Regions from separate parts of the Homo sapiens genome. Here region 2 is linked to region 1. The links come from fine-mapping of genetic effects on plasma protein levels. A gene starts in region 1. The other region holds a variant in brackets. All regions are shown on one strand. Distances are between the middles of the regions.

The links. PIP is the chance, under the fine-mapping model, that this variant and not a neighbour inherited with it causes the effect. Protein levels are from antibody-based Olink assays in UK Biobank. Linkage for the fine-mapping came from a reference panel and not from the study's own genotypes, which makes the PIPs less certain.
Region 2: its variant is fine-mapped to the plasma level of the PCOLCE protein (UK Biobank, PIP above 0.99).

Annotation. Positions count from the first base shown.
Region 1 is chr7:100,597,145-100,605,467 of GRCh38, reverse strand. PCOLCE (procollagen C-endopeptidase enhancer) reads right to left here and starts at 3,105. Exons shown (of 9, transcript NM_002593.4): 1 at 2,917-3,105; 2 at 1,930-2,038; 3 at 1,251-1,509; 4 at 253-377. The coding sequence starts at 3,011. It overlaps FBXO24 (F-box protein 24), which reads right to left. Exons shown (of 10, transcript NM_033506.3): 9 at 5,267-5,437; 10 at 4,351-4,934. The coding sequence ends at 4,569. It overlaps PCOLCE-AS1 (PCOLCE antisense RNA 1), which reads left to right and starts at 1,430. Exons shown (of 9, transcript NR_038910.1): 1 at 1,430-1,630; 2 at 2,302-3,128; 3 at 3,785-3,848; 4 at 4,616-4,745; 5 at 5,279-5,428; 6 at 5,666-5,797. RefSeq lists silencers at 487-636, 817-1,196 and an enhancer at 1,204-1,996.
Region 2 is chr7:100,032,628-100,040,950 of GRCh38, reverse strand. It overlaps ZKSCAN1 (zinc finger with KRAB and SCAN domains 1), which reads right to left. Exons shown (of 6, transcript NM_003439.4): 6 at 1-7,646. The coding sequence ends at 6,754. Among named protein-coding and RNA genes, the nearest start is that of ZSCAN21, 13 kb to the left of the region's middle. RefSeq lists enhancers at 2,620-3,119, 3,120-3,621. The variant T/C (reference allele first, on the strand shown) is at 3,331.

The sequences.
Region 1 (8,323 bases):
GTCCTGGCGCACTCACAAGTGACAGGCCCGCGTGTTATACCAGGACCCTGTACCTCGCTCTCCTGAGACTTGTCTCAGTTGTAATTTTTACATTTTTGTTTGCGTGCATGCAGGGGTTGGGGCTGTTTTGGGTGCCCACCAGCGCAAGCGCAGTGCTCGGGACACAGCAGATCTTCAATAAATCTCTGCTGGCTGCAAGCTGGAGGGCGCCGCCTGGGTCCCCTAGGGCAGCCCGGGGAGGAGGGTCGGTACCTGGTCCGGGGGCGCGATGATGTGCCAGGAACAGCTGATGCCCGGGGGGTAATCGGACTCGGGCCAGTTGGGCGTGGTCAGGGTTCCCTGGGCCTTCTCCAGCCGCCCCCCGCAAAATTGGTGCTCTGGGGAGGGGAGAGAGGAGCGGGGGTGGGGGGCGGTGGAGACCCTCGGTCAGCTTCAGGAGAACTCTAGGCTGGGAGCCCCGGCAGGCAGCTCGGATGTCTGGGGCTCAGGATGAGGGGACGAGAAGAAGGGGAGGTAAGATGGGGGCAGGTTAACAGAGAGCGGCCGGGAGGAGCGCGGCTCGGGGAAGTCTGGGGCCGCAGGGCGCACTGGCGGGCGGTGGAAGCGGGAGGAGGAACTGGCTGGACGCCCCCTTCTGGCCCCTCCCCGACCCGCGGCCGCACCGCGCCTCTTCCCCTAGGAGATCCCATCTCCCCGGCCCTGCAGCAGAGTCCCCTTTCAGGCTGGAGAGGGTGTCCTCGACTTGGGGCACAGCCCCCGAGGACCCCTTTAGGGAGGTCCCCGCCTGAAACATTGCAAGGGAGACTTCTGCCGCCAGGAGGGGGTGATGGGACCGCAATCGGGAGCCCAGGGCTGGGTGTAGGGGCCCCCCGGGGTTGGAGGAACCTAGTCCCCCCAGCCCTGGGGTGCCCCCTCGCGCCCGACGGAGGGAGCCCGATTGCGGACGGGGGCCGGCAGTTACTCACCGTCCCAGTAACCCCAGGCCGCCCATTCCACCCGCGGGTCGGTGACCCATTTCCGCCTCGCGCCTGGGGGGGGCCCTGGAAGAGGGATGGGTGGGTGCGGGAGGAGGGGAGAGAAGACGGGGAGGAGGGACTGAAGGGGCGGTTAGTGAGGAAAATGGGTCAGGGAGGTAGGGGGCCCTAGGCACTGGGGCGCGGGGTGGGCGGGGCGGAGGTTAGGGCTGGGGGCGGGGCTGCGGCCGGGGCGGGGCCTGGAGGGGGGGAAGGCGGAGGTGAGGGAGTTCTCACCAGTGCCCGAGGTGGCCCGCCCGCTGTACCAGAGCAGGAAGCCTCGTCCTCCTGTGCCCTCATCCGTCGTCATCCTCAGGGTCACCTGGTTGCCGGGGGCGACTAGGGGCGCAGGCCGGAAGGTCCCACAAAAGCGTCCGAGCCGCTGGCCGGAAGTCCCAGACCCAGCGAAGACCTCCAGAGCATCGTAGCGGCAGGCGGGGTGCAGCTCCAGGTCGAAGACTCGGAATGAGAGGGACACAGTCTGGCCCTCGGGGACCTGATAGCGGGGACAGAGGCGGGGACCCACAGAGTCAGGCCCCACACAACCCAGCCAGAGGGCAGCTCCCCTGCCCCAAGCGTTTCTTGCAGAAACGGACTGAATGGGAAGGGGCCTCCATGTGAGTGCAGAGCAGAGGGCCTGGTCTCTGCAGCTCTGCTGGTAGCCTGTGCAGGGGACAAGAGCTGAGGCTTTGGAAGAGGAGGGAGGGCCGGGGACTGGAGAATGAAGATTTGAGGGAAGGGTTAAGATGATGCGTGTTACGGTGGGAATGATGCCTTCAGTGACAGAGGGAAGACACTTGGAGCTGCCCCAGGTTGAGAAGGTGGTGCGGGGGGGACGGGGGGGGGGTCCCTTCGCAGTCAGGCCTTTTTGCCTCTGAGACTTTAACAAGGGGTAGTGCCCAGAGGGGTTTCTCACCGTTATGGTCCAGATGCACTCCTTATTAGGGGGGTAGAGGTTGGGGAACCCCTCACTTGCCACGTAACCTGATTCCCCCTTCACATCCCCTCCGCACAGGAACACGGGTCTGGAGAACAGAAAAGGGGTCAGGAAAGAGCAGGGACGGGTGGGACGGGGGAGCACTGGCAAGATGGGGATGAGGTGATGAGGATGAAACTCCAAGGAGGGAAGCTGGGGGATGAAATGGAAAGGCCTTGAGAGACCTGGGGCAGCTTCCACCAGCCAGGACAGGGCTGGGGTGTCCCAGACTCCCACAAAGATAAGGGAAAAGTGGGCCTGGCAACTCGACCATCCCTCCAACCCCAAGAGTCCCCACCCCCACCCCAACAGGAATTCCCGGAATCCTCCTCGGCCCCCCTTCCAGACTCCCGCCTCACTCTGCCTGGCAGTCCAGGGACAGGAGCCGCCTAACTACTTCCAGATGTGGACACAGCCACGAGGCGGTGGGGGGGAGGGGGTGGAGAGATGGAGGGAGCTGCAGTGGCGATGGCCCTCTGATTGAACCTGGAGGCCAGGCTCCGCGAGCTCCACACCTTAGCCCTGCCCCTGTTCCAAACTACTTCAGATTCTGACTCCCAAGTCTCCACTCACTGCCCCCTCCTCCCCCTACAATCCCTCTCGAATTCCTTCCTGGAATCCAGCTACCAGGCAAGTTCAGGAGCTTGGCTCTCTCTTGGGTTCTATGGGGGGTCAAGGATCTGGGTGGGTGGGGAGACTTAAGAGACCAGAGGACGAAGGTGGGGGAATGGGAGCAGTGGTGGCCTGCAGGAGACCAAGGTCTTGCAGCAGATGGGGAGGATTTGGGGGCCAGAGAAGGGTGAGGCGGTGGGGAATCTGGGGAGTGGTGTGTCAGCAAGGGAACCCAAAATATCTCCAGGCATAACCCCAAAGGAATCGGGGGTCTGAAGTTCACTGGAGCTGTCTGGAAGATGCCAAGAGACCTACCTGGTGTAGTTGGGGGTCTGGCCCTGGGCAAAAGGCAGCAGGGCGCAGGCAGTGAGGAGGGGCCCCAGGAGGGAGGCTGTGGCTGCAGGCAGCATGGCCCCGGGGGAAAGGCGCTGGGGTCCTCAAGACAGAGGCAGCAGCTGAATTTTGCAGAGCAGCAGCAGCGGTGGCGGCAGCAGCAGGATAATCAGCGCCAGATGGGGCAGCCTTGGGTGTGTGGGCGTGGGGACTGGCCAGTGGGGCGGGCAATGGGGAAGGCGGGACAGTGGCGTGTCCTGGGACCTCTCTAGGTCTAGGACACATAAATGTTGACCTTAGGAGGGGGAGGAGCAGTGAGGGGCAGAGGCCGTCTCCCAGGCCTCAAGTAACGTCATCGGGAACCCCACTCTGTCCAGTGAGGGAGTATCTCCGGGAACTTCTGAGGACTCCCTAGCCCCCATCCTCCCCCCGCCCCTGCTTCCTCAGCTCAGGAGCCCTCATTGCTCACCCCCTGCCTGACCACCCCTGCCAGCTCATTTTCCACTTCAATTTCTTTTTTTTTTTTTTTTTTTTTTTGAGACAGAGTCTCATTCTGTGACCCAGGCTGGAGTGCAGTGGCGCGATCTCTGCTCACTGCAACCTCCGCCTCCCGGGTTCAAGCAATTCTTGTGCCTTAGCCTCCCGAGTAGCTGGGACTGCAGGTGCATGCCTCCACACCTGGCTAATTTTTGTATTTTTAGTAGAGGCAGGGTTTCAGCATGCTGTCCAGGCTGGTCTCAAATTCCTAGCCTCAGGTGATCCGCCCACCTCGGACTCCCAAAGTGCTGGGATTATAGGCGTAGCCACCACACCTGGCCTCCACTTCACATCTCCATTGCCTTCTCTCCAGACCTGGGCCAGACTAGGCCAAGGAGAAGGAATTCTCACCCATGACCTCTTCCAACTACTTGAAGGTACAGGAAGCAAGGCAGGAGGCATGGGGTGTGGATGAAGGGAGTGTCCTTGTTACTCAGGAAGAGGTGGAAGGAGTAGAAAATAGAGCCCAAACCTGGGAGGTAAACAGAAGGGAGAGAGGAGGGGGGCTGGCTTCAGGCCGAAGGGAGATGGGTGGGAAGCTTTCGGGGGTCAGGAGGAACAGGCTGCCTCAGGATGGGGACAAGTCTAGTGGGCAGGGGATCCCAGTGGGGTAGCCAAGAGCATCTGTGCATAGAGTTGTTCCAGAAGGTAGGGCCAGAACTTCCCAGTCCAAACGACCAGGTGTGCTCTTGGGAGCAGGGAGTGGACAACAATGTGAAGGGTTCAGGCAGCATCAGCTCTGCTGCACCTGAGACCTGGAGCTGCTTGTGCTGCCTGCCCCTGCCTGGGCTCCTGCCCTCCTGCACCCACCAAGCCGGGCACCCACCCACCCCATCCCTGCCCCTGTCCCTCCCAGCCCCCAAGGCTTCCACACCAGGCCTCGCTGCAGCCTTTTATTCTATCCATCAAATCTCTTGTCCATGATAGTCAGGTTGGGGGCCCCTCCTGGGCAGCCCCCTGAACATTCTTACCCTGGTTAGCCGTCCCCACCCCCTAGCAACCCCTTCCCACACGCATGTGCACAATGGTCATTGCTCCTTAGTCCCTGGCCTGGGGCCGGACTCCCTCCTCCAGGGACTAGGCTAGCATGAGGGGGATTAGGTCTCAGGGGCTGGGGGCCCTACACCACCCCCGCCTCCTTCAGCCCTCTGCAGCATGTCCAGGGCCTCCCAGAAGAAGTCCTTCTGTGCGGCCATCAGGGGCATCCACCCTACGATCTCCTTCATCTTCTCCGTGCGGTCCTGCAACGTTTGGCAACTGTGGATCTGGCTGAGGTACTCCTCGCAGGCCTGGGCCATCCCCCCGGGGTCCTGGGGTGCTCTGGCCCCCAGGCTGGGCTCAGGAGTCCCCACCACCCTGCTGGCTGGCAGGTGGCGATAGGGGGCGTGCTGCTCAATGTCGTGGCTGGACAGGATGTATAGGCACTCCCTGGTGGCACAGAGGGCACAGGCACACAGAGGGACCTTGGAGGAGGAGAGAAAGGGGGCATGGCTGAGTGGTGCTTTCCTTGCAGGGTTTCCCAGGGTGCCCGGGCTAATCTGCCTATTGCATTCTTCCCTCTCACACCAGCCCTGAGCCGGCTAAGTCCCAGGGGTGTGTGAGGTTGGGCAAGGCCAGCACAGTCTGCTAAGGGAGAAAGCAGAGAGCGTGGTGTGCGGCAGAGGAGGGAGGTGGGGTGGTGCTAGGGAAATGGGACCCCCTGGGTCCCTGCAGGAGCCCCAGCTACAGCCTGTGGGCTTCCTGGTTCATGGCTCTCATCCTCCCTGGGTGCCCACTCTCCTGACCCCGCTCTGACCTTGACTTGGAGCTTGACGAAGGAGGCACTCCCCTTGGGCCAGCCTGGGAGGCGGCCCCCAGCCCCACAGCCGCAGCCCAGCAGCTCCTTGCTGAACTCTGAGCTCTGGCTCAGCACCAGGGAGTGGTTGAGGCCGCACCACAGGGTGATGGGCCGCTGCAGGTAACAAACCTGGGGACACACGGCCAGGGTCCCTGAGCAGGGAGCACCAAGGGACGGGGGGGCTGGGGTGGGAAAAGGTTGACTGGAAGGCTCGGGGCAGAATGAACTGGGGAGGAGGAAATGGGAGCCAGCACTGTCCCACGCCCCAGGTCTGCCCTGCTGACCCCTGCAGCCCCCATACTCTAACTGGTCACATAGGGTCTTGCACTTCTGTTGGTATCTCATCTATGCCCCCAGAAAATCAGCTCCTTGCCTGAGCCCAGGGCCTGCTGTGGTGTACCCCTCATTCTCAGCCCACCCGTCTATGCCAGTCCAGCCTCTCATCCTGCCTGCCAGCCTCGGGGAGACTTGCTTCTTGTGCAATTCCAGGTTAGACCCCAACACCACCCTGAGGAAGGACTTTCCCTTCCACTATCCCTCCCTTCCTGCTCTAGTATTATCTTTTCTTTCTTTCTTTCTTTTTTTTTTTTTTGTTTGAGACAGAGTCGGAAGGCTGGAGTGCAGCAGTGCGATCTCGGCTCACTGCAACCTCTGCCTTCCTGGGTTCAAGTGATTCTCCCACCTCAGCCTCCCAAGTAGCTAGGACTACAGGTCCTTGCCACCACACCCATCTAATTTTTGTATTTTTAGTAGAGAAGGGGTTTTGCCATGTTGACCAGGCTGGTCTCGAACTCCTGACCTCAGGTGATCTGCCTGCCTTGGCCTCCCAAAGTGCTGGGATTACAGGCATGAACCACTGAGCCCAGCCTCCACTCTAGCATTTTTATTTTCTCTTTTCTTTTTTTAGAGATGGGGTCTCATTCTGTTGCCCAGGCTGAAATGCAGTGGTGCAATCATAGCTCACTGCAGCCTTGACCTCCTGGGCTCAAGCCATTCTTCTGCCTCAGCCTCCTGAGTAGTTGGGAATACAGGCATGTGCCACCACACCCGGCATGTGCCTATAATTTTTAAATTTTAAATTTTTAAATTTTCTATAGAGATAGTGTCTCACTATGTTGCTCATGGTGATCTCGAACTCCGGGCCTCCCACCTCAGCCTCTAGCATTTTTTTTTTTTTTGTAGAGACGGAGTCTCGCTCTGTTGCCCAAGCTGAAGTGCAGTGGCACGATTTCAGTTCACTGCAACCTCCGCCTCTCCAGTTCAAGCAATTCTCCTTCCTCAGCCTCCCGAGTAGCTGGGACTATGGGTGCACACCGCCACACCTGGCTAATTTCTTTTGTATTTTAGTAGAGACGGGGTTTCACCATGTTGCCCAGGCTGGTCCCGAACTCCTGGGCTCAGGCAATCCACCTGCCTTGGCCTCCCAAAGTGCTAGGATTACAGGTGTGAGCTAGTTGAAATGCTTAGCCTAGCATTTTCAACTTATCACATAATTCTTTTCCAAAATGGCCACCCTGTTTTTGAAAAAAAAGCTTCTACTTGCTTCCTGCCGCTTCCTGCCTCTCTCTCTTAAGCAGCAGAGTTGGTTACATGACCAATCTGAGGCTGACCACATTACTGTTCCTTCCCACAGCCAGTCTATCCAGCACCTCCCTGGGATCTCGCTTTTCTCTCTATTACATTACTGACATGCTCTCTCTAGAGGCACTTGGCCTCTCAGTGGCTAAATCCCAGGGCGTCTTCTGCCCCCTCATTCTCCTGAGCCTGTTAGCGCTTTAATTCTGAAGACACTGATAAGTAATTTATGGTCATTCTAGAAAAATTATGAAACATTGGCAAGCAAAAAATTAATTTTAAAATCATTGGAAATCCCACCATCTACTATTAACATCTTGCTAGATATTCTTCACTGTTGGCTAAACAAACAAATACACATAAATTGTATATTTTTTATTTTTTAGAGATAGGGTCTCAGTGTCACCCAGGCTGGAGTGCAGTGGTGATCACAGCTCACTGCAGCCTTCAACTCCTGGCCTCAAGCAATCCTCCTGTCTCAGCCTCCTGAGTAGTTGGGATTACAGATGTCAGCCACCATGATGGGCAAGTTGTGTATTTTTAAACAAAAAATGGGATGGGGCCAGGTGTGGTGGCTCACACCTGTAATCCCAGCACTTTAGGAGTCTGAGGTGGGAGGATTGCTTAAAGCCATGAGTTCAATATAAGCTTGGGCAACATAGCAAGACCCTGTCTCTAAAAAAAAAAAAAACAAAAAAAACAAAAAAAACAAAAACTTATCTGGGCGTAGTGGCGCATTCCTGTAGTCCTAGCTGCTTGGGAGGTTGAGGCGGGAGGATCTCTTGAGCCCTGGAGTTGAAAGCTGCAGCAAGCTACGATTGTGTCACTGCACTCCAGCTTGGGAAGCAGTGGAGACCATGTCTCAAAAAAGTAATAATAAAAATAAAAAGAGGCTGGGTGCGGTGGCTCACACCTGTAATCCCAGCACTTTGGGAGGCCAAGGTGTGCAGATCACCTGAGGTCAGGAGTTTGAGACCAGCCTGGCCAACATGGTAAAACTCCGTCTCTACTAAAAATACAAAAATTAGCCGGGCATGGTGGTGGGCGCTGTAATCCCATCTTGGCAGGCTGAGGCAGGAGAATCACTTGAACCTGGGAGGCAGAGGTTGCAGTGAGCCGAGATCGCGCCATTGCACTCCAGCCTGGGAGACAGAGCAAGACTCTATCTTGAAAATAAAATAAAAATAAAAATAAAAATAAATGGTACTATGTAAACCATTTCATAAAAGTCTTTTTCACCTAAAAATATGGCATGACTATCTTTTCCATGTCAGTAGTAAATGTATCTTACATTGTCACACCATCAATTAACCCTACCACCCACCCCATTTGGAACTTCCTTCTCATGTGGCTTCTGGGACAGTGTTAGAGGGGTGCACGGCCTGTCTTAGAGGCACCTCTTCATCCCCTGTCTACCACAGGGCCTACTTCTCAGAGTTG
Region 2 (8,323 bases), 560 kb after region 1:
AGATTTTCCTGCATAACCACAACCTGTCTCCTCCCACCCCACCCCCATCATAGATGTTTTCAAATAAGAACCCCTGCGATCAGCAGAAGCATCTCTAATCTAACATGCTTTGTCCTTGCTAGGGCAGGCTAAAAGCTTTAAAAAGCAACCGGATGCTCTTCTCTGGTTGAGGTGAGGGGAAGGCGCTCGGGTACCAACCCCAGCACACCCCAACAGCCTTTCCTCGGCCCCTCCTCAGGCCTCCTAATTACTCTTTCTCAGCCTGGAGTGTGGGGCCGTTACCGTCCTCTTCCCCCTTCTCCTTCCATACTGCACTTAACCTTGCTGGAAGACTTAATGATGGAGATTTAGGGCAACTGTGGCTGCTTGGACCCTTCCCTGGACCAAAGGAACTTAAAACCCAAACCTGACACTGGAATGAAATCCAAGTTTTTAAATATCACCTTTCAATCACTCACAGATCTCACTCTATCTTAAAATACTCAGCCTCACTCCTTAATGAGTGCTTGCTGAAGGGAGAAAATTCCATTTTAAAAACGTATTCACTTTACTGATTACTGTGCAATTTGAATTAAGTCACGATTCTTTAGTAAATGGAGGTGAGAATCTCAGATTCAAATTGTCAGAGACCATGATTTAGAAGTCTACCAAACACCCAGTTTCCTTCCACTGTTTTAGGGTAACAGGAAAACATGAGATTGGGGTGGTGTCCGCTATTAAATGGAACCACACATCATGAAATTCAATTCTCATGTTAAGACATTCTGTATTGTGGGATGTCAAAAGTATTTCCCAAACTTTCGTTTGACCTGCAGAGTTGGAGATGGCTTACCTCCCTATAACTTCAAGTTTGTTTCACAAAGCTTTGAAAAGTAAAACAGATAATTTCATTTTCAGATAATAAAAAATCTGAATAGCAAAATAATTGCTTTTAAATGTAGTGTGTCCACTCTAAAAAAAAAAACCCTAAATCTATGTTAGAAAAACTTTTCAAATAATGCCTTTTATTAAATTCTCCAGTAGTAGTTGAAATAAAAATCTACCCTAATTTCTATGAAATGATCTATTTATATCACTGACTTTTCTTTTTCTCTGATTCTATATTTCATTTAACAATCTGCAGACTTTCACCCCATTTCCCAGATGGGAAAACCCTAGCCCCCTCGTATCTCTGAGAAGTTGCTCAGAGTAGGACACAGAGAAATATGGCCCCCACCCTGGGAAGTACTGCTGTCACTGTTTAAGTGTATTTCAGTTCTGTTACTCCAATTCATACACACAGTCTTCCATGAGGATGGTAGGATGAACCTGGTTAGCTGGCTTTGGATAAGCAGATCAGCATGACTACCTGGAATAAAAGTGACTGACTCTAGGATAAAAATTAAAAAAAGATTCTTTCACAGCAACGAGTCTTTGCAAAACCTCTCTCCTAATAATCACAAACCAGGGGAAGAAAAGTGGGAGCAGGGAACACAGGAACACAGCCAAAGGGAATATTGCAAAATGCTTCCCGAGCTTCATCAGACAGACTTCTTGCAATGCCACGACTGGATGCATCTGCACACAATTCCGGGAAATGCCCACCTTGCTGTTCTCCTATCCCCAATTTTCTTTCTTTCTTTCTTTTTTTTTTTTCTTTTTTTGAGACAGAGTCTCTGTTACCCAGGCTGGAGTGCAGTGGTGCAATCTCGGCTCACTGCAACCTCTGCCTCCCAGATTTAGGTGATTCTCCTGCCTCAGCCTCCTGAGTAGCTGGGACTACAGGCGCCCACCACCACGCCCGGCTAATTTTTGTATTTTTAGTAGAGACAGGCTTTCACCACGTTGGCCAGGCTGGTCTCAAACTCCTGACCTCAAGTGATCCGCCCACCTCTGCCTCCCAAAGTGCTGAGATTACAGGAGTGAGCCACCGTGCCTGGCCAGTCCTATCCTCCCCCCAACCTTTTTTTTTTTTTTGACATGGAGTCTCACGCCATCACCCAGGCTGGAGTGCAGTGGCGCCATCTTGGCTCACTGCAACCTCCGCCTCCCATGTTCAAGTGATCCTCCTGCCTCAGCCTCCTGAGTAGCTGGGACTACAGGCGCCCGCCACCACGCCCAGCTATTTTTTTGTATTTTTAGTAGAGACGGGGTTTCGCCATGTTAGCCAGGATGGTCTCGATCTCCTGACCTTGTGATCCACCCGCCTTGGTCTCCCAAAGTGCTGGGATTACAGGCCTGAGCCACTGTGCCCAGCCTTATCCTCAATTTTCTAAGCATAAGGATTTAAGAGTTAGTGGGAAAGCATGACTACGGTTTAAAAGAACCTGGTCAGCTGAAGCAGTCCCACTTGGCCATTCCAGTACACTTCCTACTCTCGCTTCATGGAGAAGACCGTCTACTGACAAGAGAATCCATCCCCTTTGCACACAGTGGTCACCTGACAGCTCAGAGGTCAACTTCTTGGTTTTGAGGAAAAATTCAAAAGGCTGCACGTTTAAAGGAGTTGTTCCATTTCAGTGCCCCATTAGCCTGTCTTTCCTCAGAAATTTACCAATCTCTTGATGTGATAAGCACCAAACTATGAAGCTTTTCCCTTCCTCTCCCCGCTGCTCCGTTCTGTGAACCGACTTTTTGTCTACAATCACACTGATTTCTTCACTGTTTGCTCTGAAACTTCACTTTTTCTGAGTGATGTGTTCTGTCAAATAGGCTAAAATAAAATACAGTATCTGCTTACAGGTAATATACGGAACAATAACAAGGGACTGAAGGTACAAAACACACACGGACATTATGGTCATATAAAATATATAGAAGTACCTAACGTTAACAATTTTTGTAAGAAGTTGCACATTTTGCTATTTTTTTAAAGCATTTCCCCACATTTTTTTTCATCTGTAGATCCTCTGCAGTTAAGATTGAGCACCCCCCCGCAACTTTTTTTTTTGATACAGAGCCTCGCTCTGTCACTCAAGGCTGGAGTGCCAGTGGCATGATCTTAGCTCACTGCAACCTCCGCCTCGCAGGTTCAAGCCATTCTCCTGCCTCAGCCTCCCGAGTAGCTGGGACTACAGGCGTGCGCCACTGTGCCCAGCTAATTTTTTTTTGTATTTTTAGTAGAGACAAGGTTTCACCATGTTGGCCAGGCTGGTCTCGAACTACTGACCTCGTGATCCGCCTGCCTCGGCCTCCCAAAGTGCTGCGATTACAGGCGTGAGCCACGGCGCCCGGCCAAGATTGAGCTCCCTCTTGCAATGTTTCTCAAATTCATCACGATTGGAACATACCGACGGAATTCATTTTCTGTCTGAAGCAATGAGTGCTATACATGAAAGTTTTCCTCACATA[T/C]AATATTCATCAAGTTTATTTACAGTATAAGCTTTCCGATGCTAAGGGCTGAGATGTGATTAAAGGCTTTGCCGTATTCATCACATTCAGGAGGCTCCTTTCTGGAATAAATTCTCTGATGTCTATGTGAACTGTCCCACGTATCACACGTCAACCTCTCTATACATATTTAGCAGTTTCACTTTTATGCCTTTAATATTAAGTGCTTTACATATCAAGATGTCTCATAGATCGATAATCTCAGGTTTTAGCCTTGCCTGCCAGGCTGGAGTAGAAACAAATACCCCACAACCTGAGGATTTTACTTCTCTTCCTGGCAAGGGTAGGGTATATATTGAAAAACTCTTCAAAAATTTCCATTAGGACAACTAGCATGCTAATGGTTAACTGTAGAATGTTTCAACTGTTAACAGACTTCAGCGGGCCAAGAACTTTTGAATGACTATCTTGAACGCCAATTAGATGTTGCAAGCGTTTTTGACCATGACCCAATTACACTTTGCACTGAGCATCTGATAAACGAATGCACTGCAAGTGGTTTTAATAAACAGTTGTAGCCTGTTTTCCTCAGAAAACACATCTTCAAATAGCTGCTTCAAGGACAGCATGTGGCTGAAGATCGAAGCAACCCTAGTGGCAGCTATCCAACAAAGTCAGGAAGATGTCTCCATGAAACGGAATTAAATGTGAGGGCACAGGTCACATTTAACCTTCATTTAAAAACAAAACTCAAAAGTGATGGCTGAGTTATATCAGCATATAGTTGTGGCTGAAAGAAAAAAAAAAACCAAAGGCCAATGTAAACATGACCAAAGTCCTTTCCCTCTTAAAAAATAAGTGCTTGGGTCGTTGCCTGGAGTTCCACACCTCACTTTTCAGTTTCTTTCTTTCTTTTTTTTTTTTTTGAGATGGAGTTTTGCTAGTCACCCAGGCTGGAGTGCAGTGTGCAATCTTGGCTCACTGCAACCTCTGCCTCCTGGGTTCAAGTGATTCTCCTGCCTCAGCCTCCCAAGTAGCTGGGATTACAGGTGCCCACCATCATGCCCGGCTAATTTTTATAATTTTAGTAGAGACGGGATTTTACCATGTTGGCCAGGCTGGTCTCAAAACTCCTGACCTCAGGTGATCCGCTCACCTCGGCCTCCCAAAGTGCTGGGATTACAGGCGTGAGCCACCGCACCTGGCCTCAGTTGCTTTCTAGAGGGCAAAAGTCCTTGCTCAAAAGCACAGGAGTTTTCTACAAAACCATTGCTGTGGCTTATTCTTTGAAGAAAATCCTTAAAACATTTTCTGCCTCCATTTTAGTTACTTAGATATACTCTTCTGGAGTAATGGGTTTTTCTTCCGTTGCATGGGTAGAAATATCCTAGTGACTGGTTGACTTGCAACACGTTTTCCCAAGTAATGCTGATGAAACTGCTTAGAAGCTATAGGGAAGTTGTAGTTGGTTTAAGTCATAAAGCCAAGGAGAGGCCAAAGAATGACCACTGTGCAGTTTTAGCTCCCACTTCGTTGGTTCCATATAAAACCATTTGGTCTCATGGACTTTAGCTGCTGATCAGTGAATGACTGATGAGTAATAGTTTTAGTATAAGTTTCTCAAGGGAAAGTCTCAAACTATATATGGGGTTCTCTTGTTATGGGGAGGTCACACTGATAGTCTTGAGGTTTGTTCTCAGTCTATGTTTCTGTTTCCGCAGGGCGGTCCTAGCCTTGGGTAGGACCCTTGTCCTACTTGAGTGGCGATGACTACTTACACAGCTCACAATCTCCTGTGTGTGAAACAGTCTCCTGCCATCAGCTTCTAGGTAGCCAGTTGCACCCTGCGCACAACGATGGGACCAATGAAAGTTTCATAACCTCACCTCAGTCTTTAGTGATAAGAAACAGAAAAGTCACTGTGCACTATGACGATGGCACAGCCAGCCACATCTCAGTACACTGCTGAGTTTCTCAGAGCAACAAAATACATTTAGTAATTGCCAGTGAACAATTAATGCTTTTGCAAAGTTACTGGAAAAGCGTGGGAAAAAACACTCCCTACCACGTTCCTTTTTCTGAAAAGCAACAAAAATCACATCTTCTGAACTCCAGTATCTAAGTACAAATGATTCAGAAAATCCCCAAATCATCATACTGTTCAGCAGCTAACTGCAAAGAATTCTAAGAGCTTTGCCACAGAAAGATGTCAAAAAAAAAAAATGACCTTCATCAGTGTTCATATTTTTCTTCAAGATGACGATGATAAAGTCATTTCTGACATTCCATGGTATTTACTCACTGTTTAGAAAGTCTATGCAGGCGGCTGACTAGTGCCTTTCGTTTATATTTGGAACAAAAACAGCATCAGACCCTAGAGGTTTAGCATGCCTTGTGGCTACGAAGGTCCTCTTTAGAAGCTGGGCCAGGCTACCATATTTCAGGGACTCACGATTCACAGGCTTTTATCACACACGTAGAAGTCCTGTAGAAGTCAGTCTGAATGAGTGCCTCTTAGGTGTTCAGTACTCACTATGTCCAGCACTGTGCTGGCAGGGATAGAAATATATCCCTTGACAACCGAATCTTTTTTGGGGGTTAGGGGGTGATTAAAAACTTCATACATGAAACAATGAAGGATTAAAAGACAGTATACAATCAAGTGCTAACTTGTGGAGAAATGCATTTAGGAGTGCGATAGTGCTTTAGGGATTTCAAGAAGGGAGAGATGTATTTGGAGTTGTTGTTGCCATTTCAGTAGAACTGATCTCAGGGATGAGGACAGAACCATCTACATTTGTTGCAGTCCTTTGGAACTGTAGACTGGTGCACATACCCTCTCTTTCGGGAAGAGATAGAAATCTTTGGTTTGATACTGATTAGCACAGTCCTAGATTTCTACAGCTTTGGTAGGCTACCAGTGATCATATATACAACTTATCGTATATATAACTACCTTGAGCAGCATGTCCCAATGTCGTTTTTGTTTTCACTGTCCCTCTTTTTTGAGAAATAAGCAGGATGTTGGCCAAAGTAGGGCTTGTTTGCAGCAAGTAGCATCCTAACCTCCGTATCACTTTCGTGGAGCCAATCTTGATCTTTCAACTATTATGTTGTGGTTGCCGAGAGTCCAAGAGTGCCTTAAAGGTATCCTCATTACTGAAAAGACTGACATTTCACTATGCGTGTGCTTTTCTCTTGTGTGGAAATCTCACGTGGATTATCCGTAAGATTAGCCTTTCCCTGCAGGGGCTGTGTGGAAGGATTATATGCCCAACTACTACATAAAGGCAGAACACTGCTGATGTGACTAGAAGGATCCTTAAGTGTGACTTTTGTTTTTTAATCTGTTGAGGCTGTATTTCTTTTTCCCTCCAGGAGCACACATCTCTGAAATAATTTTAGAAACAAAAGGGGGAAATGGCTTGATGGCAAATTCTTCCTTTACACACAACTTTTCAGGAACGCGCCAAATGCATCAAGGGAGGCTGGGCTGTACTCAGAGGCTCTCTCTCTGGCATGGATTCTGTGATGCAGAGTGAGGGTGGAGCTGCGGGTGAAGGCCTTGCCACACTTAGTGCACTTGTAGGGCTTTTCTCGAGTGTGAATTCTCCGATGCAAAATCAGGTATGAGTTTCGGTTGAAAGCTTTTCCACATTCACTACATTCATAGGGTTTCTCCCCCGTGTGAATTCTCTGATGCTTGGTGAGGTCCGAGCTCTGGCTGAAGGCCTTCCCGCACTCATTACATTCATAAGGTTTCTCTCCAGAGTGGATGCGCTGATGGAGGATGAGATTGGAACTGTGGCTGAAGGCCTTGCCACACTCGTTACATTCATGAGGTTTCTCTCCTGTGTGGATCCTCTGATGCAGGACAAGGTTGGAGTTAAGACTGAAGGCTTTCCCACACTCACTACATTCATAGGGCTTTTCTCCAGTGTGGATTATTTTATGGCGGATAAGGCTTGAACTTCTCGTGAAGCATTTACCACATTCATCACATCTGTGAGACTTTGTTCCCGTGGGAACTTCTTCAGGGGTGGTGAAGTTGGAGCTCAGACTGAAGCTTCTTCCCAATCCTTTCCCCTTCTCCCTTGGACCTCTCTCTCCTGTGATGGTTTTTTTGTCCTTTCCTATAGCTGGCCCTGAATCTCTTTTCTCTTTCCTGGTTTTCTCCTCAGGGTTTTTCTGCTGTCTTTCTCCTGTTTTGCCCTCCTGGTCACGTTTCTCTCCAAACTCTTTCTGGGATCTTCCTGTTGTCTCCCCGCGTGATGCTGAATCTTCCGAGGTTTCAGCCTTTGAGGTTGACTCCTCGTTCTCATTCCTGTTTTCACCACCTGACATAATAAATAGAAAATTCAAATCGCACCTTTTTCTTTTGAATATACAGGTGGGTCAAGCGACAGTTTCCCGAGAAGCTTCTACACGGCTGCAAAATGACTTTGCAATATTTTTATTTTTATTTCCTTTGAGACAGAGTCTCGCTCTGTCGCCCAGGCTGGAGTGCAGTGACGTGATCTCAGTTCACTGCAACCTCCGCCTCCCAGGTTCAAGTGATTCTCCTGCCTCAGCCTCCCAAGTAGCTGGGACTATAGGTGCATGCTACCACGCCCGGGTAACTTTTTTTTTTTTTTGAGATGGAGTCTTGCTCTGTTACCCAGGCTGGAGTGCAATGGCGTGATCTCGGCTCACTGCAAGCTCCGCCTCCCAGGTTGACGCCATTCTCCTGCCTCAGCCTCCTGAGTAGCTGGGACTACAGGCGCCCGCCACCACGCCCGGCTAATTTTTTGTATTTTTAGTGTAGACGGGGTTTCACCATGTTAGCCAGGATAGTCTCGATCTCCTGACCTCGTGATCCACCCGCCTCGGCCTCCCAAAGTGCTGGGATTACAGGCGTGAGCCACCACGCCTGGCCTACGCCCGGGTAACTTTTGTATTTTTTTAGTAGACACGGGGTTTCACCATGTTGGCCAGACTGCTCTCAAACTCCTGACCTCAGGTGATCCACCTGCCC